Homo sapiens: one gene and its partners. The protein of the gene in region 4 purifies or fractionates together with the protein of the main gene of each other region. This does not show direct contact. Each region holds a gene or a part of one and is shown on either strand. Other genes may lie near its edges.

Region 1 (3,500 bases), on a different chromosome or scaffold from region 4:
CCCTTAACTGCCTTGTCCCTCCTCCCTAGAAAACCCAATCCTCAATCCCACCATCCACTGCTTCAGGGCATTAATCCCACCATCCCCCTCCTCAGCTCCTGAATCCCACCATCCCCCTCCTCAGCAGCTCCTGAATCCCACCATCCCCCTCTTCAGCAGCTCATGAATCCCACCATCCCCCTCCTCAGCTCATGAATCCCACCATCCCCCTCCTCAGCTCATGAATCCCACCATCCCCCTCCTCAGCTCATGAATCCCACCATCCCCCTCCTCAGCAGCTCATGAATCCCACCATCCCCCTCCTCAGCAGCTCATGAATCCCACCATCCCCCTCCTCAGCAGCTCATGAATCCCACCATCCCCCTCCTCAGCTCATGAATCCCACCATCCCCCTCCTCAGCAGCTCCTGAATCCCACCATCCCCCTCCTCAGCAGCTCATGAATCCCACCATCCCCCTCCTCAGCTCATGAATCCCACCATCCCCCTCCTCAGCTCATGAATCCCACCATCCCCCTCCTCAGCAGCTCATGAATCCCACCATCCCCCTCCTCAGCTTCTGAATCCCACCATCCCCCTCCTCAGCAGCTCATGAATCCCATCCCCCTCCTCAGCAGCTCATGAATCCCACCATCCCCCTCCTCAGCTCATGAATCCCACCATCCCCCTCCTCAGCTCCTGAATCCCACCACCCCCCTCCTCAGCACCTCATGAATCCCACCATCCCCCTCCTCAGCAGCTCATGAATCCCACCATCCCCCTCCTCAGCTCATGAATCCCACCATCCCCCTCCTCAGCTCATGAATCCCACCATCCCCCTCCTCAGCTCCTGAATCCCACCATCCCCCTCCTCAGCAGCTCATGAATCCCACCATCCCCCTCCTCAGCTCATGAATCCCACCATCCCCCTCCTCAGCTCATGAATCCCACCATCCCCCTCCCTCAGCAGCTCATGAATTCCACCATCCCCCTCCTCAGCTCATGAATCCCACCATCCACACTGCCACTGGCAGGCCTGCTCTTCTCCCAGGGTGTATCTGCTCTCCACTCTCCAGAACAGCATCTCCCATCTCTTTGCACCACCACCTCTGCCACCTCTTCACTGGAAAAACACCAGAACAATCGGCCATGGGCTGCCTTGACTTCCCCTAAACAAGGTCACCCACAGCTGCTGTGCCCTCCCCACCTTCCCTCCTGAAATAAATGATGACACGAGCTGGCTTCACTCAAGCCCACCCTCCACTTGCACTCTAGGCCCCAGCACCGCCTGCCGAGATCTTTTTCTTCTTCCGTCATAAATGTGTCTCCCACATACTCTAGAATCTCCGGTAGTCAGAAAAGGCTCCTTTGCGGGTGGGAAACTTGATTGGATGCTGCTTACAACAAAAAACTAAAAAGACATTTTGGGGGATAACTGGAAAATGTTGGCATGCGAGCTGCTGTTTTACAGCATTTATGGGCTTGTTAGGGCAGTGTGGCTATGCGGGAGAAGGCCCTGATTTCGCCAGATGCCTACTGAAGTCGTTAAGGATGCAGTGTCATGATATCTGCAACTCCCAGTGGTCAGGAAAAAAAGAAGAGAAAGAAAAGAACTGTAACAATGTTTATAATTACTGACTCTAGAGGACAAAGGTGTTCACTGTGATAGGCTTTCCACTTTTTTGCCTGCACAGTGTGTGGGGTGTGGCTCATATGTTTAAAAAACCTTCTAGGTGGCCGGGTGTGGTGGTTCATGCCTCTAATTCCAGCACTTTGGGAGGCTGAGGAGGGTGGATCACAAGGTGAGGAGTTTGAGACCAGCCTGACCAACACGGTGAAACCCTGTTTCTTCTAAAAAATACAAAAATCAGCTGGGCGTGGTGGCATGCACCTGTAGTTCCAGCTACTCAGGAGGCTGAGGCAGGAGAATTGCTTGAGCCCGGGACATGGAGGTTGCAGTGAGCCGAGATCGCGCCACTGCACTCCAGCCTGGTGACAGAGCGAGACTCCGTCTCAAACAACAACAAAAACTTTCTAGGCTACACCAGGCCTGGTGGCTCATGCCTGTAACCCCAGCACTTTGGGAGGTGGAGGCGAGAGGATCGTTTGAGCTCAGGAATTTGAGACCAGCCCGGGCAACACACTGAGACCCACAGGCGCACGCCTGTAGTCTCAGCTACTTGAGAGCCTGAGGCAGGAGGATCCCTTGAGCCCAGGAGTTCAAGGCTGCAGTGAACTATGATTGCACTACTGCACTCCAGCCTGGGCAACCGAGCGAGACCTTGTTTCTTAAAACAACAACAAAAACAACCTCCTAGGTGAGTCTAATGTGCAGGCAGGCTGAGATCCACGGGGCTAGAAACCCTTATGTTCATTTCAGTCATAAAACAGCCCTGTCAGCCTATTGCTCCATTTCTCTGTTCCTTTTTAGCCGGGCAAACTATGTCCCAACACCTGTTCTTAGAAATAAAGTATTACTGGAACCCAGCCACGCCCACTCACTTACAGACTGTCTTGGCTGTTTTCCCTATAACAGCACAGCATTCAAGGTGCCTAACAGAGACCATATGCCCTTAAACCTCAAATACGTCCTCTCCAGCCCTTCAACAGTAAGCCTGGCCTCCGTCCCGGGTTCAGCCCTCACTTTTTCAACTCCCCTGTCCTCCGGGTCCTGAATCCACTGCAACTGTCCCCACTTTGCCTCCCAGTAGTATCAGAAGCTTCCCTCCCTTGCTCCCTCTCCTGGACACGCTTTCTTGGCTTCTTCCTAGGTGAGAAGTGTGGGGTAGGGCTAAAAGTGTGGCCTCTGGAATGATGGAGATGACAGAACCTTCCTCATAGGGTGTTGCTGGGAGGATGGAATGAATCAACAAACACAGAACATGTGAGCAGTGCCCGGCCCACTGTGCCTCTGGGGCAGCGACGACCATGGGGTCAAGGCTCCCCCTGCGTTGGCCCCCTACCTCTCCATCTCAGCTCACGCCACCCCTCACTCTCTGCTCTGCTCCAGCCTCCCTGGCCCTCAGGCACTCTAAGGTCACTTCTCCTGAGACACCTGCTGGTTGGTCTACTGCCTAAATGCCAGCCTGTCCACCTGCTGCCACCCCTAACCCCCCGCAAGGCTGGCTCCTCTGTGTGACTCAAGTCTCAGATGAACTAGTACCTTGGAAAGGTCTTCCCTGCACTCTCCCATCTAAGATCCCAACCCCCGGCACGTTATCTTGGTTTACTGAGTGCCCAGCTCCCACCACCATCAGAAATTACCGTTCCTGCATTAACAGTCACTGCTGCTCCCCACGCTCTCCCCCACACACTCTAGAAAGCCAGCTCCATGAGCCCAGGGCCCCATGGCTATCCTGTTCACCAATGACCTTCTCAGCCCAAGAACAATGCACTACTCACAGCAGGCATTCAACAAACATGCACAGAAGAGAGAGGCAAGGAAAGGATCCCCTACTAAAGCAGGCATCTAAAAATTTTTGCAAAACATGACTTTAAACAGAATAGAGGGCTGGGCACGGTG
Region 2 (3,500 bases), on a different chromosome or scaffold from region 4:
AGCTCCAGTGGTGAGCAAATGAGCATACTGGTTTACCATTTAGTCGTTTTATATTTTAAATGAGTGGTGCTTGCAGTTGATAGTATCCGGGTAAACTGATGCTAGACTAAGACAGCATGTTTGTGGTGAAGTACTTGCAAATAACATTAGAAATCATTGATTTCAGTTTAGAAATAAAACACAAGCTACAAAAATTTTGCTGGTTGATTTATTTTTAAGCACAAAATCAAGAATTCCAACTATGTTACGAACATTTTGAGGCAAGGACTACTTCCTCAGATGTGAATGAGAGTCCATTTCTGCCTGAGCAGCATTCTTTGTAACTAAAAGCCCCACCGGCTGAAATATTTTGAAATATTTTTCTTCAGAAAAGTAGAGAATTTGACTCCTAATTGTGTTCATGGGACTGTTAACATAGATTCAAAACAGAACTATTACTTGCTTCATTTTGGCTATGGTCAGATGAAATAGTAGGTTTTAAAAGGAAATTCCAGTGATAGTACGGAACTAGCTAGCTAGCTAGTTTAACGGATTTATTGTTTTCGGTCACAATTTGACATATTGTTATTTAAATTTTAATGTAAACCTGTGTTAAACTTTTTTATATCAGTTTTTTTATCTACATAGTTAAGTTTGAGGCAGATGTCTGTCATCAGTTGGTAGTTCATTTAACTAGTATTTACTGGAGATAGAATGGAAAAAACTGCTCCTTTGGTTCTCTTAATTTTTGTTTTGTGACGGAGTCTTACTCTGTGATCCATGCCGGAGTGCAGTGGTGGGATCTTGACTCATTATGAACTCCGCCTGTTAGGTTCAAGCGATTGTTGTCCCTCAGCCCCCGGAGTACCTGAGATTATAGGAATGTGCCACCACACCTGGATAATTTTTTCTATTTTTAGTAGACACTGGGTTTCACCATGTTGGTCAGGCCCGTCTCCATGTCCTGGCCTCAAATGAGCCGCTCGCCTTAGCCTCCCAAAGTGCTGGGATTACAGGTGTGAGCCACCCTGTCCGGCAAAACAGATTATTTCAATCTGTTCACATTTTTAAGATGAGAATCAGCTGTGGTCCATTAAATGGTCCATGTACCAAATGATAGCTTTATTATTAATAGATTAACGTCTACTCTGGTGTAGTGTTGACATGTATTACTAGGTTTTTTGAGACCCAGGAAATGTCACTGTTTGCAGCTAATGTCTTATGGTCAGAATTTCCATTTAAGAAGCTTCCCTTTGAAAACCTCTTCTTAGTACATGTCTTGTAATGCTTTTACTTTGGAATTGGGGTAGACATTCTTTGTCTTTTTTTTTTTTTTTTTTTTTGGTGGTGGAGGAGACAAAAGTTTTTACTCTGTCGCCCAGGCTGGAGTGCAATGGCTGTCTGCAACCCCCACTTCCTTCCTGGGTTCAAGCAACTCTCGTGCCTCAGCCTCCTGCGTAGCTGGGATTACAGGTGTGCCACTGCATCCAGCTGGTGTGTTTTGTTGTTTTTTTTTTCTTTTTCTTTTCCTTTTCTTTCTTTCTTCCTTTCTTTTTTTTTTTTTTAAGACGGAGTCTTGCTCTGTCACTGAGGCTGGAGTACAGTGGAATGATCTCAGCTCACTGCAACCTCTGCCTTCCAGATTCAAGCAATTCTTCTGCCTCAGCCCTCCTGAGTAGCTGGAATTACAGGCGTGTGCCACCATGCCCGGCTAATTTTTGTATTTTTAGTATACACGGGGTTTCCCCATGTTGGTCAGGCTGGTCTCAACTCGTAACCTCATGATCCACCTGCCTCCGCCTCCCAAAATGTTGGGATTACAGGCATGAGCCTCCACACCTGGCTGGTGTATTTTGTCTTAATCTGTTCAGGTGATTAATGTCTCTAGAGTGTTTTAATTTCTTAATCTGACTAGATTTTATACCAACACCATCAAGTTTGATTATGGGTGCAGTTACAATTCTCCTAGGGTTTAGTCCTTGTTCCCCTGGTAAAAGATTTTAAACAGCCTAGCCTTAATCAGTAAGTAATCAGCTATTGTTGCCTCATCTATTGTATAGCTTTCTCATAGTGAGAATTTCCGCTTAATTTTTAGCTGGTGCTTGAAGTAGTCATACTGAGCTTCTTAATATATATCCCTTTTAACTTAAAGGTTGTCACACTATGTATGTTTTTTTTCTATTTTCACACTTACCGTCCTCAACATTTTTCGAGGCAAGGACTACTTCCTCAGATGTGAATGAGAGTCCATTTCTGCCTGAGCAGCATTCTGTGTAACTAAAAGCCTTAACTGGCTGAAATATTTTGAAATATTTTTCTTCAGAAAAGTAGAGAATTTGACTCCTAATTGTGTTCATGAGACTGTTACATAGATTCAAAACAAAACTGTATTACTTGCTTTATTTTGGCTGTGGTCAGACGAAATAGTAGGTTTTAAAAAGAAATTCCAGTGATAGTACAGAACTAGCTAGCTAGCTCATTGGTTTAGATACGGGTGCCGGTGAAGGTTTGTGGCTTAGGAGGTAGATTAGATATTTATTTCCATTGGACTGAGGCTTAAGCTCAGTTTAATGCTCATGGATATGGATAACTTATTTTGATTCACCTCCAGAAATTGTCGTTAAGCAATTTGTGTTTGTGCAAGTGTTACCATCTCTCACAAAGGATATGAGTTTCTGAACACTGATATTTTATAGTTTCTGTATCATTATACTTTGCAAGATTTTGGTCAAAAAGACCAAAAGCTTTATGTCAAAATGGGAAAGTAGTGATAATAAAAAGTTACTCAGTATCTTTTTCTTTGCATTAATTCCCATGAATGGATTAAACTAAGAGATTAACCATACTTAGGGGAAATGCAAACTTTTTTCTGTTTTCTTTTTTTTTGAGACAGTGTTGCTCTGTTCCGCATGAGTGCAGTGGTGCAGTCATGGTTCTCTCACCTCCTGGGCTCAACCTGTCTTTCCATCTCAGCTTTCCTTGCTCTTTTAATTTAGGAAAATGTTCCTGTCCATAGCCACTCCTGGGACAAGATTAAACATTGCTTTGTTGAAATAGTGTGGAAACACTTTTAAGTTAACAGAGGAGAGAATTAGCAATGAGATCTTGTAAATGTTTTCACTACAGGAAGATTGGAGATATTACAACTCAGAATAACTTGCCACTATTGTATATATATAAGAGGGAGAATCATGACAAAGGTGATTAATAATATTTTTAAAGTTCTTGACTATCACATTTGTTTTTTAAGAAATATTTGGAGTTAGAACAGTTGGTAGGTGTATTTTTATAGAGTACCTGGGCCTTTGCATTAAGTTAGTTGCATTTTTAAAAAGCTTGCAGAATTGAAGACCTTTTCATACGTTGCCATAGGTTCTTATATGGAAATGACAATGTGGAATGTAGAAAGTTTAGAACTGATGTCCATGTAAGAAGTATTTTGTTCTGTTTTGAATTTTCTCTTTACAAATGTAAGTGTACCAAGCCACTGCTTTGGTGTATCTTTATCAATCACTGGGATA
Region 3 (3,500 bases), on a different chromosome or scaffold from region 4:
CTAACAGCACCATCTCAGAAGTGAGGGCTATTTGACCACTCTCACCTTCTGGCAATTTTATATCCTCTTTCCCTGTATTATTTTTCCTCCACAGCAATTATTACCTTTTACTATACTACATGATTAATTTCTGTCTGTCTACACTCACCAGAATGTTGACTGTTATATCCCATCCCCCTACCCACTGTCTAGCAAAAACACTTTGTGTCTAAAAGAGAACCTTGCACACAGCAGATGCTCAATATGAACTAAATAAATGAAAGAATGAATAAATGTACCAGGTAAGAATTTAGTAATGAAAAAAAAATAACCACCCTCACAAAATTTCTTGAATTATACTTAGGACTCGACTTCCCACTCTAATTGAATTAATACACCAATGTAGACCACTAAGTAAAGTCAGAGAGAAAATACTGGCAGATTTAATGATGAGAAATGCATTGGAGCCTACAAGATAGAAAAACTCTGGATTACTTCACCATATGAGGGAGCTGAATTATTCTGTTAGATACCTAATTTCTCTTAAGTTTTGAGATTAAGATAAGAGAAAATCAAGCCTATCATTTGAGTAATAATGCAATTTTGAAAAGTACACTGCTCAGAAGTTTAAAAATTTCTGGTACAGTCCCAAACTGAAGACCCACTTTTTTCTTATCTCCTGTTGCTTCAGCTTACTAAGGCAGAGATTACTCTCCATTTCTACACTATATCTGATGTATCTAAATTTTGTTTATATGTACCTACTTTATATGCAGTAGGAAAAAGATTTTCTAAAATAAGATATATTTTGTTCACCAAGCAAAATTCAATTCAGTAATGAGAATGTCATACCTTTTTCCACATGAGTTTTGATCCCAGCTCTTCTCTCCCTGGCTTTCTGGGCCATTTCTCTAAGTTTCTCTTCATGTTTTTCCTTTTCTTTCTGAGCCATTTTTCTCTCTACTTGGGCACGCATTTCCACAGCTTCACGAGCCTGTTGGTAAAGTCACATGTTAAACAGGACACTATCATGGGATAAATATTTATGGCTATCATCCAACTCCCTAACATCTGGCTGGTAAGAGCAATTATACAGAATTCAGATTTGTTATTGCTAATTAAAACAAAGAGTCTTGTCCACTAAAAGATATCCTGCCTGGAAGACACTGCAAGGTCAGCTTTTTTCTCTGGGAATATTTTAGTGATTGAAACTATCGTGACCCCAATTAATCTTGTAAGTCAAGTATTTCACTAATGCTTTCTCAGAAACAATCTAAAGAACAAAATTAAAGCCAGGCATAGTGGCTCTCTCCTGCAATCCTAGCACTTTGGGAGGCCAGGGTGGAAGGACTGCTTGAGCTCAGGAGCTTGGGACCAGCCTAGGCAACATAGTGAGATCCATCTCAAAAAAATAACATTTTCAAAATTAATAACACTTTCAAAGTTAATCAAGTCAACTCAAGATAAAATCTTAACTTACATCTGCTAGATAATTTTTATAAGGGTACTCACTGTGATACAAAAGACATTTTTTTTATGTTCCAAACACATGCTATGATGCATGTGAACTTCAATATCACATATTAATTCCATAATATTTATATTTACATATATTTTTTGAGATGAAGTGTCTTACTCTGCTGCCCAGGCTGAAGTGCAGTGGTGCGTTCTTGGCTCACTGCAACCTCCACCTCCTGGGTTCGAGAGATTCTCCTGCCTCAGCCTCCCAAGTAGCTAGGATTACAGGTGCATGCCACATCCAGCTAATGTTTGTATTTTTAGTAGAGATGGAGTTTCACCACATTGGTCAGGCTGGTCTTGAACTCTCAACCTCAAGGAATCCACCAGTCTTGGCCTCCCAAAATGCTGGGATTATACACATGAGCCATTGTGCCCAGCCTAATTCCATAATATTTAATACATTATGTAACATTAATAGATGGCCAATGCTATGAACGCCATTTTATGTACTATTCAATTCATTAGAATGTTTATCTGCCTTTTCCTGCAACTGCCCTTTTGGGGGACATCTACATCTAAAATAGAGGAAAATTTGAAATCAAAAATTATGAAACCTAGCAATCTTCAAAAAATGGGATCATCCTAGGAAACCATTATTCTGACATGTTGTGAGGGAGCCGGATCACCACTGTGGGGTGTATGTACACATCTACAAAAGCTGGGAGCATGCAGAGAGCTGCCAACTAGCAGCTGCCATTTCTGACACACGTACCATGGGTGAGACTCTCTTTGGGTGCTCGGTACTATAGTTAAATTATCAGTACCTTAGGTAACCAAGAATGGATTTTAAAAGTAACAAGAGCATTAAACAAATTATAACAAACCAACCTTCCGATCAGCAATGTAGAGGGCTTCTGCCAATTTGGCGAAATTTTCATTTATGTGTACTGTCTGTAGTCCTCTTCCATCAGCAGCCAGACGTTTGTCTAATGGAATTGTATAACCCTAGAGTGAAAGCAGACAGAAAACCCAGTCACAGAAGTGCTTCAATTAATCGTCTGAAGTTAAATTAATTTTATTTTTTTCGAGCTGGAGTCTTGCTCTGTCACCCTGGCTGGAGGGCAGGGGTGCCATCTCGGCTCACTGCAACCTCTGCCTCCTGGGTTCAAGCGAGTCTCCTACCTCAGCCTCCCGAGTAGCTGGGACCATAGGCGTGCGCCACACACTCGGCTAGTTTTTCTATTTTTAGTAGAGACGGAGTTTCACCATGTTGGCCAGGATGGTTTTGAATTCCTGACCTTGAGTGATCCGCCCTTGGCCTCCCAAAGTGCTGGGATTACAGGCATGAGCCATCGAGCCTGGCTAAAATTAAATTTAAATATGCCCACATTTTGAGAACCACTTAACTGGAGGTTCTTTTTCCTTGCATCTTTCTTCACAATGATGCAAAACAACAGCAGCTATCAATGAGTGCTTTATGTAGAAGATCAAGCACTTACACCTATGGTCTCATTTAACCTTCACGATAACTCTATAAAGCTTCTAACATTATTGTGTCCATTTCACTGATGCTTTGGTAACATCCCCAAGGTCATACAGTTAGTAAGTGGGCGATTAGGATTTAAACTCAGCAGGATTTCAGAACCCAAGCTCTGGAAAAATAGATATTTGTGTTAATAATTGTCGATTTTAATAAAAGGAAATCACTGTCAAACAGTTCAACAGTTGCTCCTCAAGTAAATTTAACAGTCAAACAAAGGTAGAATCACTATAATCTTAGCATCTATAGGAAGTTAAATCTGCTGTACTGTCTTAATGATCTGTTATATTCTTAGAATCCTGAAGTTTTAGTAAATAGAAAAAAAAGGCTGGGTGCAGTAGCTCAAGCCTGTAATCCCAACACTTTGGGAGGCCAAGGCAGGTGGATTGCTTGAGCCCAGGAGTTCAAGACCAGCCTGGCAACATGGTGAAACCCCGTCTCTACCAAAAATACAAAAAAGTAGCCAGGCATGGTGGGGCACACTTGTGGTCCCAACTACTCGGGAGGCTGAGGTGGGAGG
Region 4 (3,500 bases):
TAACTTGAGCCCAGGAGTTCAAGGCTGCAGTGAGCTGTTATCATGCCACTGCACTCCTGCCTGCGTGTCAGAACGAGACTCTGTCTCTAAAAAAGAAATGTTGGAAACCTCCTCCTCTAAGGAAAATACAGAAATGGTGGCCAAGTCAAGGAAAGCCTTTCACCTCTACATGGTGCATCCCCTTAATAAAGGACCACAGGGCATTATGAAGACCATGGAGCAAAATGGAAAAATGCTTACAACACAGAGTGGAATATCTTTACTAGTATTACAAGGATCTAAAAAAAGGATTCCAAGGACAGAAGGAAACAGAAAAATGTGAAAACAGCTGGTAGACACTACTCTGGTAATGAGAATATGGTGATTCTTCACCCAACTCCCCTTTTCTGTATATTCTGTTTTTAAAGTATCAGGGGAAAAGGGGAGGCATGAACACTGCTAAGAGCCATTAAACATTTATCTTAAACACAACACTGTCTAAATCTGACATGACCCAATCAACATCATCACAATGTTCAATCAAGCACAGAGAAGCTTTCAACCTAATACTCAAAGGTAATCAAAGCCCTTGAAATGTAATGAGATGAATCTGCAGAGCTGACATAGTGAAAGTCTAACCAAAGTAGGCTGGTGCCGTGGCTCACGCCTGTAATCCCAGCACTTTGGGAGGCCCAGGTCGGGGGATCATTAAGTCAAGAGACTGAGACCAGCCTGGCCAACACGGTGAAACCACGTCTCTACTAAAAATACAAAAATTACCTGGGCGTGGTGGCGCACGCCTGTTGTCCCAGCTACTCGGGAGGCTGAGGCAGGAGAATCACTTGAACCCAGGAGGCAGAGGTTGCAGTGAGTTGAGACTGCACCACTGCACTCCAGCCTGGCAACAGAGTGAGACTCCATGTCATTTAAAAAAAAAAAAAAGAAAGTCTAACCAAAGTAATCTTTATGTCTAATTTTATTAGGTTGGGAAAGGAAGGACCATCCGTTAAATGATGCATACTGACTGAGACACTGCCTCAGGGGGGTGACGTGGTCCCTGGAGAACACATGCTGATTGGGCCTGCTTCCACACATGAAGGAACTGTCCAGAAATCCAGACTGATTGTGAAATCTCATTTTTACTTGTTTTGTTTTTTTTGAGACAGGGTCTCACTGTCACCCAGGCTAGAGTCCATGGCTCACTATAGCTTCAACCTTCTGGGCCCAACCGATCCTCTTGCCTCAGCCTCCTAAGTAGCTGGGATCACAGGCCCATGCCACCACAGCCAGATAACTTTTTATTTTTTGTAGACAGGGTCTCACTATGTTGCCCAGGCTAGTCTCAAATTCCTGAGTTCAAGTGATCTTCCCACCTTGGGCTCCCAAAGTGCTAGGATTACAAGCAAGAGCCACAGCACCTGACCTCCTCATTTTTAAATAGTAGCAACAAATTTGAGTTTCGAAAAAATTACTGTGAGGACAAACAAAACATCTGTAGGCTGGACATGGACTGAGGGCTGCCAAAGGAATACCTTAAATACCCTAGAGAATGTACTGACCTTTGGAGTCAAGGGGCCAGTAAAAAAATTCCATCTAAGGATGTGAGGGTAAGTACAGTGGGGAGAGACAGGGGGAACTCGGAGCAATTCCCATTCCATCTGAGGTGGCGGCTAGCACCTGCGTGGAACTGTGGGGAGAGACAGGAGGAACCCGGAGCAATTCCCATTCCATCTGAGGTGGCGGCTAGCACCTGCATGGAACTGTAGGAAGAGAGAGGATCTCTGACCAATGCCCATTCCATCTGAGAAGCCAGCTAGCACCTGCACAGGACTGTGGGGAGAGACAGGAGGAACTCAGAGCAATACCCATTCCATCTGAGGAGACGGCTAGCACCTGCATGGAACTGTGGGGAGAGAGAGGATCTCTGACCAATGCCCATTCCATCTGAGAAGCCAGCTAGCACCTGCACAGAACTGTGGGGAGAGACAGGAGGAACTCGGAACAATGCCCATTCTATCTGAGGTGGCGGCTAGCACCTGCATGGAACTGTGAGGAGAGACAGGAGGAACTCGGAGCAATGCCCATGCCATCTGAGGAGGTGACTAGCACCCGCGTGGAACTGAACTGCATGCAGCCCCATGACCTCACTCCCGCCTCACAACAACTCTGAGATGGCATTTTTTCCATTTTGCAGATGGGTCATTTGAGGCTCTTGGAATGTGGTCTTTGTACAATGAGAATAATAAACTCCCCTTTTTATCTTCCTCAGGCCAGCAGCTCAGGCACAGACACACACCATCTGTGATGAAGCAGCTTTCCAGGCATTTCCTCAGGCCAGTTTTAGAAGCAGAGGCTCCTGGTGACTGTGGGGCTAAGTGTGATTCTCACTTTGGCCACTGCTATGCTGTGTCAGGGACACCAGTCCTACCTATTGCCTACCCCAGTGCCATGTTGTGGTTTTTTATGAACTAAAAGGCCCAAGCCAACAACGTCTCTTTAAAAACCCTTGTGCTGATTCAGTGCTGAAGTCTCTTCATGCTGAAACCCACCTCTGACCCACCCAAGTAGCTCTGTTACCTGGCCACAAAGCTGGCAGTCTTGTCAACAATATTTCTGACCTCTGGAGGAGGGTAAATAATCCCCACAACTGGCTTAGAAGGTGCAGAATCCTCCTTTGAAGATGCTTCTTCTTCTGTGGGCTGTGCAAACAGGAAAAGAAATAAGGTTTTAAAGTCCCTGGTTCAGAGCAGGTTCTCCACTGTAAAACTCCTCTAGGATATCATTCAGAGTAGACTTTCATTCACAGACTTCCCTCAGGTTAGAACCCTCTACTTCAGAAAAGCAGTTCTCTTAAGTTCACTGCACCTGCAGGGGCTGCTCCTGGGGACCCAGGGAGAAGAGCAGCTTCCCTGGCTCCTCTCTCACTGGACTATCTCAGTGAGACCAGGAATCTGCATTTTTACTATGGTATGAGACCAGCACTTCTCCTGTTGTCCTTCCCAGTTTCTCCCCAACCTCCCCTTTTCCCTAGTTTATAAGACAGGAGAAAAGGGAGAAAGCAAAAAGTTGGAAAGAAACAGAAGTAAGATAAATAGCTAGACGACCTTGGTGCCACCACCTGGCCCTGGTGGTTAAAATAATAATAATATTAACCCCTGACCAAAACTACTGGTGTTATCTGTAAATTCCAGACATTGTATGAGAAAGCACTGTAAAACTTTTTGTTCTGTTAGCTGATGTATGTAGCCCCCAGTCACGTTCCTCACGCTTACTTGATCTATTATGACTCTTTCACATAGACCTTTAGAGTTGTAAGCCCTTTAAAGGGCTAGGAATTTCTTTTTCGGGGAGCTCGGCTCTTAAGACACGAGTCTGCCGACGCTCCCGGATGAATAAAAAACCTCTTCCTTCTTTAATCCGGTGTCTGAGGAGTTTTGTCTGCGACTCGTCCTGCTACATTACCAAATGCCCAGGTGATTCAGATGCAGGGACTCCGACTACATTCTGAGAAACCATGTTCC
Region 5 (3,500 bases), on a different chromosome or scaffold from region 4:
ACTCAATGTCCCAAAATACTAGGATTACAGGCATGAGCCACTATGCTTGTCCATTCTTTTTTCTATATAAAATTTTTATAATAAACCAGCTAAAAAAAAAAGAACTTTCATAGGTAATTCAGATACTCACAGTTAAAAACCATGACATATTGTCAATTGACAGAAACCAACTAGTTGGAACCCAGGGAACTATGTCGGGGAATGAGAACAAATGGGAATCTAACGCTCCGTTCAGCATTACTGGAACCATTATGCTGGGTTCTAATTCCAACTTCAATCACCTACTAGCTATGAGACCTCGAGCAAATCACTTAACCTATCTCTGCCTCCGCTTCCTGCTCTGTAAATGAGATAATACTATGTACCTATATCTAATTGGGCTGATATAAGAATGAAACAAACAATGCAAGTAAAGAAATTAGCAGACTAACACACGCTGACAATAGTTAGCATATAGTGAGGATACATTATGTGCCAAGAGTTACTCTAAATGCCTTCTGTGTAATACATCATTTAAATTCTTACAACAAACTCATGGGATAGACACCATTATTACATTTTACAAACGGGGTAACAGACACGGAAAGGTTAAATGTAACTTGCTCAAGTTTACACTGCTTGTTAAGTGGTACAGTCAAGATTTAAACTAGTTGTATAGCTCCAATATGCACACTCTTAACTATCAGTCCATATTAATGATTTATTAAGAATTCTTAACTCTTATTATTTATGTAGCTACATAAAAAATTGTTTTGACTATGAACTTAAATGCTTATTAATATGGGAATGATTAGTAATGCATATTAGAAAATTTGAAATTTTAGAAAAAGGAAAAAGCTAAATATAAGTATAGAGTAGAGCTTAGGAAGGAAAAAAAAAAGCTATAAAGTTATATAATGGGATATGATTACGTAGACCAAGTTAAAAAACATCTTGGCTTAACTGTAGATCAGAAAATGACTATGAGTCAGCAATATGGGGAAAATTACTGTACTGAAGAAACAAGCACACCACTGGATATTAACAAGTATCTCATCAGAAGCTGAAAATTACATTCAGCTCTGGTCAGACCCTATTAAAATATGAAGTACATAAGACTATAAAGAAGCTAAGGAAAGTTTTTTTAAAAGACATGGAATATATAGAAAATCCAATTTGCAAAGGCAAATTATAGGGACTACGATTATTCAACTCAGAAAAAAAGGTAGCCAGGCACGGTGGCTCATGCCTGTAATCATGGCACTTTGAGAGGCTGAGGCCAGCAGATCGCTTGAGCCCAGAATTGAGACCAGCCTGGGCAACATGGCGAAACTCTGTCTCTACAAAAAATACAAAAATTATCTGAGCATGGTGATGCACACCTGTAGTCCCAGCTACTGGGGAGGTTGAGGAGGGAGGATTGCTTAAACTCAGGAGGCACAGGTTGCAGTGAGCCAAGATCACACCACTGTACTCCAGCCTAGGTGACAGAGTGAGACCCTGTCTCAAAAAATAATAATAATTTTTAAGAAAAAAAGGCTGGGGGGAGGGTTACTCAGCTGTCAAAACTGGAAGGATTTTTTTTTTAAGTTTACTTTAAAACTTTGTAGTTCCAGTTATTAAACCTACGAATGGGCAAGATTCAGAAGCTATAGATCTCCTTTCCTGGAGAACTTTCAAAAAGCACTCTTTATACCAGTTATCTCTTAGGTATTCATTTAAGTTGGCAAAAGATAAAATTACGGCCGGGTGCAGTGGCTCACACCGGTAATTCCTGCATTTTGGGGAGGCTGAAGCAGGTAGATCACTTGAGGTCAGGAGTTCGTCACCAGCCTGGCCAACATAGGGAAACTCTGTCTCTACCAAAATACAAAAATTAGCCGGGTGTGGTGGCATGCACTTGTAATACCAGCTACCTGGGAGGCTGAGGCAGGAGAACTGCTTGAACCCAGGAGGTGGAGGTTGCAGTGACCTGAGATCATGCCACTACACTCCAGCGTGGGCGACAAAGCAAGACTCTGTCTCGAAAAATAAGAATAAAAATAAAAGATAAAATTACAGACAAATGGAGTCTTAAAGATAAAAATGTGCTATGAATCATTTGATATGTTCCCTCCTAGAAGACAGGGGGTTTGGTAGTTACAACTCCATGCAAGCTCTATTATTCTACTTTATACTTATCCCTCTTAATTAAGGAGTTGCAGAGATTCTATTTGGATATAAAATTCATTCTATTCATAGGTAAGCTATGGTCATTAAATTATTTAAGATTTTATATATTATTATGAGCTTTTTTTTACAAAACAGTTACACAGCCTTAAAAAAAAGTTAAATTTTGGCCCAAACATATCAAGTCAATAATAGCAAGTGATAAAAGAATCATGTGCTTCATACATTTTCAAAAAGTTCAAACAGGGAAATAGTACTGTACCTGCCGAAACCTCTTTTTTATTTCTTCATCTGTAACTTCAGGATCTATCTGAAGAACCTGGAAGTATCAAAATCAAAACCATAAAAAAGGTGAAAATAAATTACATGTATATTTAAGAGTTGCTCAGTAATTATATATATTATAATCAGCATCTAGAATAGTACCCCATGTTCTAGAACACAGGCTGGCACACAGTTCTAGAAATTGCTAAAGAAATATGAATGATCAAATCAACAGAATAACAATTATATTGTCTTATGGTACTCAAATAACATAATGCTTATTTTCATCATAAAAATAATAATTTATTTTACACCCAGAGACATTTTTACATGAGAAAATTTTGCATTTCTCCTTCATTCATTAAAAGAGTTTAACTCCCCCTCCCTTTATTTTTGCAAATGTCGAGAAACCGTAATAACTCAAAAAAGAAAAAAATAGCCCAATGGACACTTTATAATTTACAAGGCCCAGTGGTTCTCAATCAGAGTGAATATTAGAATCACCTGTGGAAACCTGTGAGCAATGGCTGGCCCACTCTACGAAAGTCTGATTCCAACCCCATAGAGCAGGGGTAGGGCCAATAGGAGGAACAACTCTATTTTTTTTTTTTTTGAGATGGAGTCTCGCTCTTATTGCCCAGGCTGGAGTGCAATGGCGAGATCTCGGCTCACTGCAACCTCCACCTCCGCGGTTCAAGCGATTTTCCTGCCTAAGCCTCCTGAGTAGCTGGGATTACAGGCACGTGCCACCACACCTGGCTAATTTTGTAATTTTAGTAGACACAGGGTTTCTCCATGTTGGTCAGGCTGGTCTCAAACTCCAGACTTCAGGTGATCCGCCTGCCTCAGCCTCCCAAAGTGCTGGGATTACAGGTGTGAGCCACCGCGCCCAGCCTTAAGCAACACTTCTTTAAACAAATAATTTTTTTTTTTTTCGAGACAGTGTCTCACTTTGTTGCCCAGGCTGGAGTGCAGTGGCATAATCATAGGTCACTGCAGCCTCAAGCTCTGGGGCTCAAGTGGTCCTCTGGTCTCAGCCTCTTGAGCAACTAGGACTGTAAGTATGTGGAGCGCACAACCATGCCTGG
Region 6 (3,500 bases), on a different chromosome or scaffold from region 4:
TGTGCAGTGCTTTTTCCTGGACCCTCTTGTCATCCCTCTCCCACTCCCCTGTGCCCTCCCCAGTCCCTACCTCTCATTTCTCTTGGCTTTGGTTCTTGTCTTGATTCTGATGACACCCACAGCTCTGTCTCCAGCCCAACATTTCTCTCCTGAGGAGTCTGGAGGCCCGTGTAGCAGCAGTCGGACCATTCCCCTGGATGCCTCCCTTACTTCCAGCACGTCAGCCCTGTGGCTCCTCCACTCAGCCTCCTGACATCTTTCTGATTCGCTCACTCATGATCCTGTTCCTTCCTCCACAGCCCCTGCCCTTGTCCAGCTCAGTCTTCAGCTGCATCAGTGATTTAAATCCTCCCTGATACACACAACACATGTATGTCACCTGTGACTTCTTTCCTCCCCAACCCAGCCACGCTGCTTAAAGTTGTCTCTATATTCTGTTTTCACGTATTTCCTGCTTGCCGCAGGCTTGCTCCCTCCACTCTTGGGAAACAAGTCTCACCAAGGTTTGCCCAGCGCTCCGCTTTCCTGTTTTCTTTCCATTTTTTTGAGACAGAGTCTTCACTCTGTCACCCAGGCTGGAGTGCAATGGCTGATCTCGGCTCACTGCAACCTCTGCCTCATGGGTTCAAGCGATTCTTGTGCCTCTGCTTCCTGAGTAGCAGGGATTACAGGTGCCCACCACCATGCCCAGCTGATTTTTGTATTTTTAATAGAGAGAGGGTTTCACCATGTTGGCCAGGCTGGTCTTGAATTTGTGGCCTCAAGTGATCTGCCCACCTCGGCCTCCCAAAGTGCTGGATTACAGGCATGAGCCATGGTGCCCAGCCAGCTTTCCTGTTTTCTTTGCCCATATTATTGTTGATCCTGACTGTCTCCCACATCAGACTGGGTGCTCCCTGAGGGCAGGAGCTGGACTGGATTCATCCTATGGATCCTCAGCATTGCCTGACTTAGGGCCTCTCAGAGATTTAGTGTTTTTTTTTCTTTTTTTTTTTTTAGAGTTTTGCTCTTGTTGCCCAGACTGGAGTGCAATGGCACGATCTTGGCTCACCGCAACCTCTGCCTCCCAGGTTCAAGCTATTCTCCTGCCTCAGCCTCCCGAGTAGCTGGGATTACAGGCATGTGCCACAATGGCTGATTTTGTATTTTTAGTAGAGACGGGGTTTCTCCCAGTTGGTCAGGCTGGTCTTGAAATCCCGACCTCAGGTGATCCACCTGCCACAGCCTCCCAAAGTGCTGGGATTACAGGCGCAAGCCACCGCGCCCGGCCTAAGATTTAGAGTTATTAAAGAGTGGTTGGGTGAACGCATGAATGCATGAGAGAGTGAATGAATGAGTAAACAAATTAGCAAATGTATTAACGATTTAAAGAATTGAGTGGATCAATAAGTCAGGCCTCAGGGCCTTTGCAGTAGTTGTTGCCTCTGCCTGGAATTCTCTTTTCCAAGAGACCTCATGGCTTAATCCCTCACCACCTGAGGTCTCTAATCAAATGTCACTTTTTTGGCAAAGCCTTCTCTGAGCCTTCCATTTAAAATTGCAGCCTTGGCCAGGCATGGTGGTTTACACTGTAATCTCAGCACTTTGGAAGCCTGAGGCAGGAGGATCACTTGAGGCCAGGAGTTCAAGACCAGCCTGGGCAACACAGCAAGACCCTGTCTCTACCAAAAAAAATTAAAATTAGGCCGGGTCCAGTGGTGCACGCCTGTAATTCCAGCACTTTGGAAGATCGAGGTGGGAGGATTGCCTGAGCTCAAGAGATTGAGACCACCCTGGGCAACCTAGTGAGACCTTGTCTTTACTGAAACTTTTTTTTTTTTTTTTTAATTTAAAGATTGGCAGGGTGCAGGCCAGGCGCAGTGGCTCACGCCTGTAATCCCAGCACTTTGGGAGGCCGAGGCGGGTGGATCACGAGGTCAGGAGTTCGAGACCAGCACAGCCAAGATGGTGAAACCCTGTCTGTACTAAAAATACAAAAATTAGCCGGGCATGGTGGCAGGTACCTGTAATCCCAGCTGCTCGGGAGGCTGAGGCAGAGAATTGCTTGAACCTGAGGCGGAGGTTGCAGTGAATCAAGATTGCTCCACTGCACTCCAGCCTGGGCGAAAGAGCGAGACTCCGTCTCAAAAAAAAAAAAAAAAAAAAAAAGATTGGCAGGGTGCAGTGGCACACACCTGTAATCCCAGCACTTTGGGAGGCCGAAGGGGAGTGGATCACCTGAGGTCAGGAGTTGGAGACCAGCCTAGCCAACATAGCGAAACCCTGTCTCTACTAAAAATACAAAAATTAACCAGGCATTTGGCTTGTACCTGTAATCCCAGCTAGTTGGGAGGCTGAGGCACCAACCACAATAACTTGAACCCAGGAGGCGGCAGTTGCAGTGGGCAGATCTCACGCCATTGCACTCCAGCCTGGGCAACAAGAGCAAAACTCCATCTCAAAAAAAAAAAAGAAAAAAAAATTTAAAGATTAACTGAGTATGGTTGTGCATGCCTGTAGTCCTGGCTGCTCAGGAGGCTGAGGTGGGAGGATTGCTTGAGCCCAGGAGTTCAGGGTTACAGTGAACCATGGTTGTGCCATTGCACTCCAGCCTGGCAATGGAGCAAGGCCTTATCTCTTAAAAAATAAAAATAAAAATAGGCCAGTCACAGTGGCTTACACCTTTAATGCCCAGCACTTTGGGAGGCCAAGGCAGGAGGATTGCTGGAGCCCTGGAGTTCGAGACCAGCCTGAGTAACATGTCAATACCCTGTCTCTACAAAAAATTTAAAAATTACACAGGCATGGTGGTATATGCCTGTGGTCCTAGCTACACGGGAGGCTGAGATGGGAGGATCGCTCAAGCCCAGGCGGTCAAGGCTGCAGTGAGCTGTGATTGCGCCCTGCACTCCAGCCTGGGTGACCGAGCAAGACCCTGTCTCGAAAATAAAATAAAATTGCAGCCTCCTCCACCTCTTCCCTCCTCCTTCCCTGTTTATTTTTCCGCATAACTCCAGGAAACACCTAACACATTATGTTTTCGGTAATTATGTTGCTAATTGTTTGTGTCCCCTACTGAAATGTCAACTTTTGCTCACTGTGGTTTCTCTAGTGCCCAGAACAGTGCCCAGAATATAGTCAGTGCCCAGTAAATGTGAGCTGAGTGAGTGACTAAGCCCCCAGTCCCTTCCCACACTCCCATCTCTGAACTAACCAATCTCTCCTTTCCTCAGGCTGCATAGAGCCTGGACCTGGGCACTGGGGTGAGCTGAGCCGGACACCAGTCCCATCTAAACCCCAGGACAAAGTGGAAGCAGCTGAGGCAACACCAGTGGCCCTGGACAGTGACACCTCCGGGGCTGAAAATGCAGCAGTGAGTGCTATGCTGCACGCTGTAGCCGCCAGCCGCCTGCCTGTTTGCAGCCAGCAGCAGGGTGAACCCGACTTGACAGAGCATGAGAAAGTGGCCATCCTGGCCCAGCTGTACCACGAGAAGCCACTGGTGTTCCTGGAGCGCTTCC
Region 7 (3,500 bases), on a different chromosome or scaffold from region 4:
TAAAACTCTTTCTTACTGGAATATCCTTTACAGAAGGTTGAGATAGTCATCTGAGCCTTTTTAAAAGAAAAAACTGCAGGTGAAAAAGGAGTTAGTTGATGTGAAAGTTTTAGTGAAATTCTGGGTTGTATAAATAAGTTGCTAGGAATTGGCAAGGTAGTGAAGTGGTGACTCACACAGGTAATGTAATTGTTAGATTTTTTAGCAAATCAGGAATATGTCAATATAAGTACAATGTTGAATTCAAACAATCTGTTGAATTAAATTCTGTTGATTAGAATAACTCTAATTTAAGAAAAATTCCAAACTGTAGATTTATTTTTCTCTGATCAGTAAAAAGAAAATGAGTTCCAGCTTGACTTTAGCTGTTCAAGTGAGAAGTCTGAGGAAGTGCATGTTAATGAGCCAGTGACCCATAGGTAGCTGGGTTAAAGACACTTTGGATTTGGATAATCCGGGAAGCAATTAATCCCTAATTGTTGAACAGGCAGTCCTGGGTAAAGAGGACCTAAAATGCTGCACTATTAACAGCATTAGACGGCCAGGTTTGTACTTCATAGTTTTAGGCTGTCTTCTTCACAAGTTTTAGAAAAAGAATTTAGGAGCTAGAGCCCTGGTGCAGGATCAACAGCAGCTCATACTCCTATTTTAAAATAATTTGGTCGTGGCCTCCCTTCAGTTTTAATGTGGCACTGGTAAATCTACCTGGTTCTGGCATGCTTCACTTTGATTTCCTGCTATCCTCTACTGCTTGCCTCTAAATCAAGGTAAAGAGCAGAGCAGGTATGTATTAATGTCACATTGTCTTGATTATTTTAAATACTTAAAATATACATGTTAAACCTTGGTATTAGTTTCACAGGCAGTTTACTTTTCAGTACATAATTTAACAGGAGTGACTTGGTGGGAGTGGGGCTTTAAACTGAAAATTGGAACAACAGCATGATGTGGAGAAAAGTTGTGCAGCATTAAGAAGTACATGCAAAAATTAAGTAACCAAGTTTTGTCTACATAGCAGATATGTTTACATTGGATGTCAAAAGTAACACAGTATTTGATATAATTACAGATAATTGTGATCTACATTTTAAAATATCAAGAGATCGTCTCAGTGCTTCTTCCCTTACAATGGAGAGTTTTGCTTTTCTTTGGGCTGGAGGAAGAGCATCCTATGGTGTGTCAAAAGGCAAAGTGTGTTTTGAGATGAAGGTAAATGCAATTTTATGATTTGTTTGTTTGTTTGTGGAGACAGTCTCACTCTGTTCCCTAGGCTGGATTGCCGTGGTGCGACCTAGGCTCACTGCAACCTCCGCGTCCTGGGTTCAAGCGATTCTCCTTGCTTCAGTCTCTCAAGTAGCTCGGACTAGAGGCACACACTACCACACCTGGCTAATTTTTGTATTTTTAATAGAGATGGGGTTTCACCACGTAGGCCAGGCTGGTCGCCAACTCTTGACCTCAGGTGATCCACTGTCTCGGCGTCCCAAAGTGCTGGGATTACAGGCATGAGCCACTGTGCCCAGCCTTTTTTTTTCCTTTTTAAAATAGTGACAAGGTCTCACCATGTTGCCCAGGCTGGTCTTGAACTCCTAAGCTCAAGTGATCTGCCCGCCTGAGCCTCTCAGAATGCTGGAATTACAGGTGCTTCATACTGCTAAGTTATCAAAGGTACTTATTTTTGAAGCTTCCTGTAAATTAAAAGAGGAGCTTGGAACCTTCATTTTGTTGTGACAGTTAATCACGGTTGTTATGTTAGAACTTGCCATGCAGAGCTAGGCGATTTTTTATTTAGGGTACTTCATTTTTATCAAGCATTTGAAAGGGCCACCAAAGAGTTAAAAATAAAATTTGGTTACATTACTGCTTTTGTTGGTGAGAAAAACATTAATTGTATCCTTTAATTGGCTTTAAGTTAAAGACTGACAACATGAACTTTAAAAATATTAAGTATTCTTTTAAATATGGGTCAAATAAGTATTTAACTCTTTAAATTTCAAGTTATAAGCACATCAGTTTAAAGTTCTTACAAATATTGGGGGTGGGCTAGAGTGTGCCTTCTTTGTATTTATAGCTAGAGGAAGATTAGCCCGTGGCGCAATGAAATATGCGAGAGTTAAGGGGTTACCTCCTTGGTGTATTATTTTAATTATTTAATGATTTGACTTTCAGGTTACAGAGAAGATCCCAGTAAGGCATTTATATACAAAAGATATTGACATACATGAAGTTCGTATTGGCTGGTCACTAACTACAAGTGGAATGTTACTTGGTAAAGCTTCTTTTTGACTGATGTGGGCTCATGAATGTTCAGGAGGGTCTGATTTCAGTGTTTTTTAACTAGAGGGCATTCTAAGCCTTTTGTCTGTTTTTATCTATTCTGTTAATACTTCAGACAGGTAATATTAGCACATAGTAGGCACAGGCTACATTTTAGTTTTTGTTCCTTTATTAGAAGTTTATGACCAATGGTTGAAATAAAATCTTACCCGTGATATGCAAATCGTCAACTAATTTGGTCTCTGCGTATATATCCCTCCTAACTTCCATCAATTCTGGTACAGAGATAGAAAAGTAATAGTGTCAGTGACAGGTGATTAGGTTATATGCTTATTTCTCTTGTAGCCTACATCTTAAGTAGTAAAATAGATGAGTCTTTGGACTATTTTAAACATCTACTTCATGAAGATTAATTATTTTCTTAGGTGAAGAAGAATTTTCTTATGGGTATTCTCTAAAAGGAATAAAAACATGCAACTGTGAGACTGAAGATTATGGAGAAAAGTTTGATGAAAATGATGTGATTACATGTTTTGCTGTAAGTTAAAGCTAACTTTCTATGTATAAATGGCAAAGTTAGTAGCTATATCTAGGAACTTTAAAGAAGCTTTACTGAGGTCAGTTTTCAATATGAGCAACAAAATACACCAGTCCCTGGATTAGTGTAAAGACTTCATTCAGCAGTTGAATTGGGAAAACACAGGACATTTTTGAGGAACTCACTAATTCATTTTGACTGAAAACAGTGAACATGAAATTGACCTAGAAAATTCAGTCTAGCTTCTAGGTCAGTATTGTTTCTGGTTCTGGAGATACGTGCTTCATGGTTTACAACCATCAGATTTCTTAACTGTGTAGCCCTTAAAGGCCACCTAATAGTTCTTTAACCTGTAGCTTCCACAGGATAAGCTTTGCTCCTAATTTTAATTCTTAGTTTTTTAGAAAGTTTAAGGAAGCAGATTTTAACTGTTGAATTTTTTTCTGTGTAACAGAACTTTGAAAGTGATGAAGTAGAACTCTCGTATGCTAAGAATGGACAAGATCTTGGCGTTGCCTTCAAAATCAGTAAGGAAGTTCTTGCTGGACGGCCACTGTTCCCGCATGTTCTCTGCCACAACTGTGCAGTTGAATTTAATTTTGGTCAGAAGGAAAAGCCATATTTTCCAATACCTGAAGAGTATACTTTCATCCAGAACGTCCCCTTAGAGGATCGAGTTAGAGGA

What was found.
Region 1: the proteins of SF3A1 (region 4) and SART1 fractionate together in Homo sapiens (co-fractionation; 3 studies listed by BioGRID and IntAct, with this or other methods). This does not show direct contact.
Region 2: the proteins of SF3A1 (region 4) and HNRNPC fractionate together in Homo sapiens (co-fractionation; 3 studies listed by BioGRID and IntAct, with this or other methods). This does not show direct contact.
Region 3: the proteins of SF3A1 (region 4) and SNW1 purify together in Homo sapiens (affinity purification with mass spectrometry; 3 studies listed by BioGRID and IntAct, with this or other methods). This does not show direct contact.
Region 5: the proteins of SF3A1 (region 4) and DNAJC8 purify together in Homo sapiens (affinity purification with mass spectrometry; 4 studies listed by BioGRID and IntAct, with this or other methods). This does not show direct contact.
Region 6: the proteins of SF3A1 (region 4) and CCDC97 purify together in Homo sapiens (affinity purification with mass spectrometry; 3 studies listed by BioGRID and IntAct, with this or other methods). This does not show direct contact.
Region 7: the proteins of SF3A1 (region 4) and HNRNPU purify together in Homo sapiens (affinity purification with mass spectrometry; 3 studies listed by BioGRID and IntAct, with this or other methods). This does not show direct contact.

What each region holds. Positions count from the first base shown.
Region 1 is NC_000011.10:65,968,234-65,971,733, reverse strand, and holds part of SART1 (U4/U6.U5 tri-snRNP-associated protein 1), read right to left. Parts: intron 1-3,500. UniProt on the Homo sapiens protein: Plays a role in mRNA splicing as a component of the U4/U6-U5 tri-snRNP, one of the building blocks of the spliceosome. May also bind to DNA.
Region 2 is NC_000014.9:21,213,943-21,217,442, reverse strand, and holds part of HNRNPC (heterogeneous nuclear ribonucleoproteins C1/C2), read left to right. Parts: intron 1-3,500. UniProt on the Homo sapiens protein: Binds pre-mRNA and nucleates the assembly of 40S hnRNP particles. Interacts with poly-U tracts in the 3'-UTR or 5'-UTR of mRNA and modulates the stability and the level of translation of bound mRNA molecules. Single HNRNPC tetramers bind 230-240 nucleotides.
Region 3 is NC_000014.9:77,730,157-77,733,656, forward strand, and holds part of SNW1 (SNW domain-containing protein 1), read right to left. Parts: intron 2,446-3,500; coding exon 2,329-2,445; intron 974-2,328; coding exon 832-973; intron 1-831. UniProt on the Homo sapiens protein: Involved in pre-mRNA splicing as component of the spliceosome. As a component of the minor spliceosome, involved in the splicing of U12-type introns in pre-mRNAs.
Region 4 is NC_000022.11:30,350,395-30,353,894, forward strand, and holds part of SF3A1 (splicing factor 3A subunit 1), read right to left. Parts: intron 2,679-3,500; coding exon 2,557-2,678; intron 1-2,556. UniProt on the Homo sapiens protein: Component of the 17S U2 SnRNP complex of the spliceosome, a large ribonucleoprotein complex that removes introns from transcribed pre-mRNAs.
Region 5 is NC_000001.11:28,212,530-28,216,029, forward strand, and holds part of DNAJC8 (dnaJ homolog subfamily C member 8), read right to left. Parts: intron 2,468-3,500; coding exon 2,411-2,467; intron 1-2,410. UniProt on the Homo sapiens protein: Suppresses polyglutamine (polyQ) aggregation of ATXN3 in neuronal cells.
Region 6 is NC_000019.10:41,313,172-41,316,671, forward strand, and holds part of CCDC97 (coiled-coil domain-containing protein 97), read left to right. Parts: intron 1-3,212; coding exon 3,213-3,500. UniProt on the Homo sapiens protein: May play a role pre-mRNA splicing through the association with the splicing factor SF3B complex which is involved in branch-site recognition.
Region 7 is NC_000001.11:244,858,044-244,861,543, reverse strand, and holds part of HNRNPU (heterogeneous nuclear ribonucleoprotein U), read left to right. Parts: intron 1-1,069; coding exon 1,070-1,209; intron 1,210-2,169; coding exon 2,170-2,269; intron 2,270-2,702; coding exon 2,703-2,815; intron 2,816-3,269; coding exon 3,270-3,500. UniProt on the Homo sapiens protein: DNA- and RNA-binding protein involved in several cellular processes such as nuclear chromatin organization, telomere-length regulation, transcription, mRNA alternative splicing and stability, Xist-mediated transcriptional silencing and mitotic cell progression.